3 separate regions of the Homo sapiens genome follow, and regions 2 and 3 are each linked to region 1. Evidence: fine-mapped expression QTL. A gene starts in region 1. Each other region holds a variant in brackets. All regions are shown on one strand. Distances are from middle to middle. Region 1 holds the start of LRP2BP (LRP2 binding protein). Region 2 overlaps LRP2BP (LRP2 binding protein). Region 3 overlaps SNX25 (sorting nexin 25).

The links. PIP is the estimated chance that this variant, and not a neighbour inherited with it, causes the effect. A credible set is the group of variants that fine-mapping cannot tell apart.
Region 2: its variant is the best candidate, but not a certain one, in a credible set for the expression of LRP2BP in sun-exposed skin (GTEx, PIP 0.78).
Region 3: its variant is the best candidate, but not a certain one, in a credible set for the expression of LRP2BP in caudate (GTEx, PIP 0.59).

What each region holds. Positions count from the first base shown.
Region 1 is chr4:185,394,759-185,397,472 of GRCh38, reverse strand. LRP2BP (LRP2 binding protein) reads left to right here and starts at 1,549. Exons shown (of 9, transcript NM_001377440.1): 1 at 1,549-2,694. It overlaps ANKRD37 (ankyrin repeat domain 37), which reads right to left and starts at 632. Exons shown (of 5, transcript NM_181726.4): 1 at 523-632; 2 at 171-323. The coding sequence starts at 549. RefSeq lists silencers at 647-1,016, 1,237-1,426 and an enhancer at 1,047-1,116.
Region 2 is chr4:185,372,269-185,375,031 of GRCh38, reverse strand. LRP2BP (LRP2 binding protein) reads left to right here. Exons shown (of 9, transcript NM_001377440.1): 5 at 571-713; 6 at 792-897; 7 at 1,953-2,176. It also overlaps a transcript of SNX25 not described here. Among named protein-coding and RNA genes, the nearest start is that of LRP2BP, 22 kb to the left of the region's middle. The variant T/C (reference allele first, on the strand shown) is at 1,598.
Region 3 is chr4:185,347,141-185,349,903 of GRCh38, reverse strand. The region is part of intron 13 of SNX25 (sorting nexin 25); the gene reads right to left. Among named protein-coding and RNA genes, the nearest start is that of LRP2BP, 47 kb to the left of the region's middle. The variant C/A (reference allele first, on the strand shown) is at 1,345.

The DNA.
Region 1 (2,714 bases):
GACTGGAAAAAAACTCTTAAATTACATCTGTGTCTTGCATTATATTTCTGTTGGACATCGCTGCTATAGACATGTTTTTAACAGCTGAAACAACTCTTGGCGTCTGAGAAATGTTTGTGTGTGTCTGGGTTGGAGGGGACGGCTGTACACAGCAACAGTTACCTAGTTACCTGCTGGTTGAGGTCAGCGCCCGTTTGCAGCTGCCAGAGAAGAAAGCAAGCAAGGCCGCTTCCTGCGGCTAAGTGGACAGGCGACTGCTTGCAGGGATCCGGGGGTGCGTTGACCGAGGCCCCTGTCTCCAGCAAATGCTTCAGACCATCCACCTGCAGGAAGAGAACAGATCCAGCACCCTTCCCACCTTTGTCCAGTCCCGCGCCCCTCCGGGCTGGAAACCTCCCCGCCCTTCACAACCAGCTCTGACCAGGCAGCGCCCAGTGGTCCGTCCCCGCATTAACGAGAAGACGAATCTAGAAGCTTGAGCCTGCAGGACAAAAGCTCGGGCTCTGTGAGCCCGAATCTCACCTCGGGGTTGCAATCCAGCAACAGCATTTCCCGCCTAAGGCAGATGACAAGAGTCCTTGGAAGTGCAGAGAGGTGAGACACTCGCCGCACCCCGACAGGTAAGAATGCGCAGGCTGGCCCTAGCACGGGAGAATTTAAAGACCGCTGGGACTTCCGGGCCGGCCCTTGGCAGCCGCGCCCCAGCTCCGGTTACGCCCGAGCAGCCTAATCCTCAACGACCCGGACCCTGTCCAGCCCCGCCACGGCCGCACGTACACAAACACTGGCACGTGGAGCCCGGCGCCGGGGGCAGGGGGAGGGGGCGGGCGCGCGAGGCCATCCGCCGATTGGCCAGCTGTGGATGCGTCAGGCCCTCCCACCTCGGGGCGGGGCCCGCGGCGGCCCCACGGAGCCTCAGCGCGCGTGCGCAGGGTAAGTCAGTGGGCGTGAGAGGACTGGAGTAGGAGCGGGTGGGGCTCCGCGGCCGCCATGAGGCGCGCTGAGTTTGACACGTCTCCCGGTAGTGCGCCCGCCCTTTAATCCTTACGGAGAAGCGGGAGTTTCGGCTGCAGGTTTTGGCTCTGCCGGCGCGCACGTAACCAGGAAACTGGGAGCCACGCGCAGCTCCCCGTCGACGCCGCCTTCAGAAGCCGCTGTGCACTGCGCTGCTGCCGCCTCGGCGCCGGGGAACGCAAGTTCCTTTACCTCGCGCGCAGTCGCCCGCCTCCCAACCCGGGAGGTGAAGGCGGGGACGGCGAGCGCGAACTCGAGGGGATGGCTGTCCCGAGTGGCAACGGCCGAGCCCGGCCCGCGCAGGGACCCTTGTGGAGGGGCCCTCGGGGAGAGGCCGCAGCACGCTGGGGTCGTCACGCTGGTCCACGCCGGGCTCTCCTCCCGGGAGAGCGGACCCGGCCGCGTGCGATTCGGACCCGCGGGGCTGGTGAAGCCGCTGTCCGGCCCCGCGGGTGCTGTCGGGCGTGCGTCACTGCTTTTTGTAGAACATGACCTGACTTCCGATGGCAGCTACTGACGTCAGAGCTGCTCCCTAGACTCTCCCTAAGCGTCTTTCCAGAAGGATCTGCTTAGAAACCAAAGCTCCAGCCGAGTGTTTCTTTTCCCCTACATTTTTAGTGATTCCCTTCTGTTGATGCCTTTGAAAGCTCGGAGAAATAAATACGTTTATTGTTATGCTGTTAGAAAACAAGTTCATGCTTGTCCTCTAAAGATAAGTGGTCTTTTCATTCTACTTTTTGTTTTGTAGTAAGAGCCATAAAATTTGCAATCGCAAGTTTATGTTGTTATACTTAGTTACCCAAGGGGTAGTTTTAAGCATTTTTATTCATATGAATATTTGAATATAAATGTGTGTTCAAATATATAGAATCGTTCTTATATTCCACATTTTTAATATTTAAACTATTCACAATATCTTTTAATGATGTTTAAAGAACGGCAGTGTAGAGATACTGTTGTCAGATTTGTGAGGTGAGCACACGTTGATATTGCCAGTTTCGCTTTTGTTTATCAATTCAATAAGCACTGCTTTTTAAAACACGTGTTGAAGCTTCAGGTTTGCACAGAAGTTCATTTTCAGGAATTCCTAACTAATAAAGGGTATCAGACACGTTCTTACAGTTTTGAACATAAATACTGCAGTTAGCATATGTAGTGGGATATTTGTGTGGTGAAAGTGCCTCCATATTTCATATCTTTTCTTTGAAACAAGATTCTGTTCAGTATGCATTAAGTGGTAGTTATTTTTTAACTTCCTGTTACATACGTAAATTTCATAAGGAAAGGAAATTTGGGGAGTCGTTACAGCTTTTCTCCCTTTAATCACAGCGTACCTGTCCATTGCTCACATTGTTTTCAGAAAAAAAAGTTGTATCTCAGCTGGATATCTGACTTGACTTTAGTAATGGGCCTAGAAACTATAAACTGAACAAAGCTTATAATGCACAAAAACAGGATAAGTACATTTGGGGGACAATATCTTACTGGCAAGTAACTGGAGTTTCACCAGGCGTGTAGCAGGTGGGATCAATTTTCTAAAACGGAAGATGATCTAAGATGCATATTTTATAGGCGTTCTCCTAAGCAGTGCTAATTCTACATGTTTTAATTGCTGGTAGATGCGTTTCCAGAACGAGGATGCCATTTACAGCGAGTGTTAAAAAAAACGTTGGATGATGAGTAAGTGACCGAATAGATGA
Region 2 (2,763 bases), 22 kb after region 1:
ACAGATCTGTTCTTGCTAGTGGTTAGAATATCTTCTATGCTTTCCTTGTGACCACGTAGCAGATGTCGTATTAGTGCATAAGATTTGTATATTAGATACAAACTATGAGCACACAGTAAAAGTATGCTTGAATGGAAGACGGTGTTTGTTAGGGGCTCGCAAGTGTATCGTAAGAATTATAAATGTGAAAGCTGTTCCTGGCCATTCTTCCACTTTAGCCAGTTCTAAGAACTGTGCTGATTCAGGATAAGGGTTATTAGATGGGAGGGAGGAGAGAAAAAAGGAAGCCCATATCGAGACTTAAATCAACTCAGGCAGCTGTAAAAGGAAGGAAATTTCTTATATCCCAGAGCTCCTGGGAGTGCCTGAGTAGGAGATGTACTTTTAGAGATTCTTTTCCTCCTTATCGCTTGCCCTGCAGAATCCAGGACAATTGTACCCCTTGGGCACAGATTCATAGTATTATACATCGTGTCAGAGGGCGGACACTTCACAGCCTTATTGGGAGAAAGAAATTCAGTTTGGGTAAAACTAAAAACTAGGGTTTTTTTGCTCTTTCTTTTGTCGAAGGAGAAAGGGGTGGACTATATGAAGAAAATTCTTGATTCTCCATGTCCCAAAGCAAGACACTTAAAATTTGCAGCTGCTTACAACCTCGGAAGAGCTTATTATGAAGGAAAAGGTGTTAAACGATCAAATGAGGAAGCTGAAAGGTAATCCTACCTGAGAACAAGATTAGGTTTGAAGGAAATGCTGAAACCGAGAATAACATGCCTCACTTTCTCTTGTAGACTGTGGCTTATCGCAGCAGACAATGGAAATCCCAAAGCTAGTGTGAAGGCTCAAAGTATGCTCGGGCTGTATTACTCAACCAAGGAGCCCAAGGAGTTAGAAAAGGTAACGTTCCCTCTTTTTTAATGCTAGTGTTATATTTAGATTAATATTTGTTTCACTGCTTTTTTTGAGAAAATGGTGGGGAATGTCGTTTTAAATATCTCTTATAGTTCCTTTAAATGTAAAGAAAGCATACATTTTAGGATCTCAAAGCCCTTTTATTTATAAATGTCCCCTTCCCTACCTCTACCGAAGGAAACCATGAATGTGAGAGTATTTTGTATACTATAGTATCAAAGCTAAAAGAAGAGAAACAGTCCTGAAATTACAGCCAAAATCCTTCTAAGCATGAACAGATGAATATTACCGTTGACTTGAGAAATTGATACTAATAAGTAAAATATACCAAGAATTAGTTACAAATAAAATCCATCTAAGATTTTCACAGAAATATAATCTCTTTCATCAATGGTTGAAACAGTTTCCAAAAAATCCTATAAGGAGAAGGAAATGGGGGCTGAGTCCTACTTGTGAGAGAGGAGTTAATGGCAAATTTGCAAGAGACACATAACAACTAAGGCCATCTTTGGATAGATAAGCAGCCATCTGGAATTTTTTAAATGAATTCAAATTCACTGTAGCAGAGTATGAGGCAAATGTGCTTGAGCCTACATACAGCGTTTATCCTGGGTTGTCTTTGATCGCAGCAGCTGCTATCTCTAGAATCCACCGGGAGCTCGAACTCTCCCTTAGCATCAGTGGT[T/C]TCCCCTCCTCTGCTGTGCCTCACGCCTTTCAGACACTGAGTTCCTATTTGGCATCTTCCTGATCCTTACTCTGAAGATCCCCAAATCCTGAAACCTAGGACAGCTGGTCTTCCTCTGCCATAAGCTGCCTGGACTGTGATCTCACCTGCACTGTGGACAGACAGCGGAGGAACTCGCCTCCACACTGTGTTAGGCATGTGTGCTAGTGTGAAATGCGTCCAAAGGCCTACCGCTCTTTCCTAGAGATGATTAATAGTGCTATCTAGGAAACACAGAGTTCTTTTCTGTCTAGTATTCCCTTATAATTTCATCTAGTGGATCACAAATACAATGATGAAACTGTGCTTTTCTTAGGCATTTTACTGGCATTCCGAAGCATGTGGCAATGGGAATCTGGAGTCCCAGGGTGCACTTGGGCTCATGTACTTGTATGGACAAGGCATCCGGCAGGATACGGAAGCTGCCCTGCAGTGCTTAAGAGAAGCAGCAGAACGCGGAAACGTCTATGCTCAAGGGAATCTCGTGGAGTATTACTATAAGATGAAATTTTTTACAAAGTGTGTTGCATTTTCCAAAAGGTGAATGTCTTTGTCTGTTCTGTGCTGCTGTAACAGAATATCACACACTAGGTAATTTATGAGAAACAGAAATTTATTTCTCACAGTTCCAGAGGCCAGGAGAGGGCTGCAACCTCCAGAGGGGAGGACCATCATGTCCTCACGTGACAGCAGAAAGCTACAGGAAACCTCTTTTATAAAAAGGGCTTTAGTCCTATTCATGAGGGAGGTGCTCTCATGGCCTCGTCGCCTCTTAAGAGCCCCACCTCTTGATACGATCACACTAGCAACACTGGGATTTCCAAGGGAACTTACTAGTCAAACCATAGCAGTAATGTTTGAATAAACTGGATGAAAGTATTGATAAGAATGCCTACTACATGTTCTATGCCAAATCCTTCACAGAGCTTTCTGCAGTATTAGAAATGATAGCTATTGAGCACTTGAAATGTGTCTAATGCAACTTAGCACTAAACTTTTAAATTTTACTTAATGTAAATATTCATATGGCTGGTGGTTACCATACTGGATAGCACAATTCTATGCCATTAGCCTTCAGGATTTCAGTGCTACTAGCTGAAGCAAGTTTTTTAAGCAGCAATTGCCTT
Region 3 (2,763 bases), 48 kb after region 1:
TCTACTCTCTAACATTTTACAAAATAGCAGGATATACTAATGGTTAAGTCCCAAACTTAATACAATCAGCATATTAATAGGGAAATCATTACAGATGTAAATCTTTGGCCTTAAATTATATTCAAATGAAGGAAAACAACTCAAACAATTCAACAGCAAAACACACACACACACAATAATCCCATTAAAAAGTGGGCAAAGGACTTGAATAGACACAAATGAAAACATAAAAATGGAAAACAGGTATATGAAAAAATGATCAACCTCATGAATAGGGAAATATAAGTCAAAGCCAGGAGATACCATCTCACACCAGACAAAAGAAAAGAAGTGTTGGCAAGGATATGAAAGAAAAGGGAACCCTTGTACACTGTTGGTGGGATTGTAAATTAGTACAGTCATTATGAAAAAGGGTATGGAGGCTCCTCAAAAAATTAAAAATAGAGCTACCATAAGATCCAGCAATGTCAGTACTGGATATACATCCAAAGGAAATGAAATCAGTATGTCAAAGATATATCTGCATTCCCATTTAAAGCAGCACTATTTATAATAAAGAGGCAAGACATGGCATCAACTTAGGCGTCCAACAGATGACTGGATAGAGAAAACGTGGTATACATACATCAAGCTTGTCCAACCCACAGCCCGCGGGCTACATGCAGCCCAATGCAAATTTGTGAACTTTCTTAAAACATTATGAGAATTTTTTGTGATTTTTTTTAAGCTCATCAGCTGTCGTTAGGGTTAGTGTATTTTATGTGTGGCCCAAGACAATCCTTCTTCTTCCATTGTGGACCAGGGAAGCCAAAAGATCGAACCCCCCGATATACATGATGGAATATTATTCAGCCATAAAGAAGAATGAAATCCTGTCAATTGCAACAACATGAATGAACCTGGAGGACATAAGTTGAGTGAAACAGACTAGGTACAGAAAGACAAATACTGCATGATCCCACTCATCTGTATAATCTGAAAAAAAATTGATATATTAGAGGTACAGAGAGGTGGTTACCAGAGACTGGGGAGGAAAGGATGGGAGAGATTGGTCAGTGGCTAGAAAGTTACAATTTAACAGGAGGAAAAAGTTCTGGTGTTCTGTTGCTCAGTAGGGTGACTATGGCTAACAGTAAAGTATTATATATCAAAAAGGAGCTAGAAGAAAGGTTTTTTAATGTTCTCACCACGAAGAAATGATAAATGTGGCTGGGCACAGTGGCGCACACCTGTAATCCCAGCACTCTGGGAGGCCGAGGCAGATTGGTCACCTGAGGTCAGGAGTTCGAGACCTGCCTGTCCAACATGATGAAACCCCGTCTCTACTAAAGATACAAAAATTAA[C/A]CAGGTGTGGTGGCATGAGCCTGTCTGTAATCCCAGCTACTTGGGGGGCTGAGGCAGGAGAACTGCTTGAACCCAGGTGGCGGAGGTTGCAGTGAGCTGAGATTGCACCACTGCACTCCAGCCTGGACAAGAGAGCAAGAGTCTGTCTCAAAAAAAAAAATAAAGAAATGATATACATGTATCAAAATGCCAAACTGTACCTCATAAATATGTACAAGTGCAATGTCAATTTAAAGAATTCTTTAAAGGATACAAATATTCAGAACATTTTTTTTCAGTCTCAGAATGTCTAGCTTCTACTGCAGAGGCAAAACATGTTTTATGAGGCAAAGTTCCATGCCTCTGAGAACTTCAGGGCTTTAAGATCCAAAGTGTGATTAACAATTATACTCTGAATATAGATGGTGCAGCAAAGGAAAAAAAAGTGGTTGTTATTGAGGACAGTACACCTTTGGCCTTATTATTTAAAAACAGACTGATAGAAAATAATAAAGTGTTTAAAGGAAATTAAGAAAATATCTTCAGGGCCTTGGAGTAGGCCAAGATTTCTTAATAGGTGCAAAAGGCATTAACCATAAGATAAAAAAAATGATAAAGTGGGCTAAATTAAAATTGAGAACATCTGTTCATTAAAAGCAATCATTAAGTAAAAGGCAATCCATAGAAAGGGGGACAATATTTGTAGCACGTAAGATCTGACAAGGAACTCAGATCCAGAACATGGACAAACCCATAAAACATTATGGAAAGGATGAGCAGCAGCACAATAGAAAAGGAGACACAACAAATGGCCGGGCACAGTGGCTCACGCCTGTAGTCCCAGCACTTTGGGAGGTCGAGGTGGGCAGATCATCTGAGGTTGGGAGTTTGAGACCAACCTGACCAACACGGAGAAACCCCGTCTCTACTAAAAATACAAAAATTAGCCAGGCGTGGTGGCAGGCGCCTGTAATCCCAGCTACTTGGGAGGCTTAGGCAGGAGAATCACTTGAACCCGGGAGGCAGAGGTTACGGTGAGCCAAGATCGCGCCATTGCACTCCAGCCTGGGCAACAAGAGCGAAACTCCGTCTCAAAACAAAACAAAACAAAACAAAACAAAAGAAAACAAAAAAAAACACCAAACCCCCCAAACACAATGAGATACTACTACACCCAAAATGGCTAAGAATAAAAACGCAAAAGATAAGTGTTGGTGAGGATGTGGAGCAATCAGAACCCTTACACACTGCTGGGGAGAGTATAAAACTGCTGTGACCATGAAGAAAAATGGAGAAATCCTAATCTCTGGGCATCAGCCGACAGATATTTGTCAAAAGACAAGTACTAGACGTTTATATAAGCACCCTTTGTAAAAGCCTCAGAGTGGAAAGGAGCCAAAGGCTCATCAACAACGGAATGAATTTGGAATGCAGTGTATT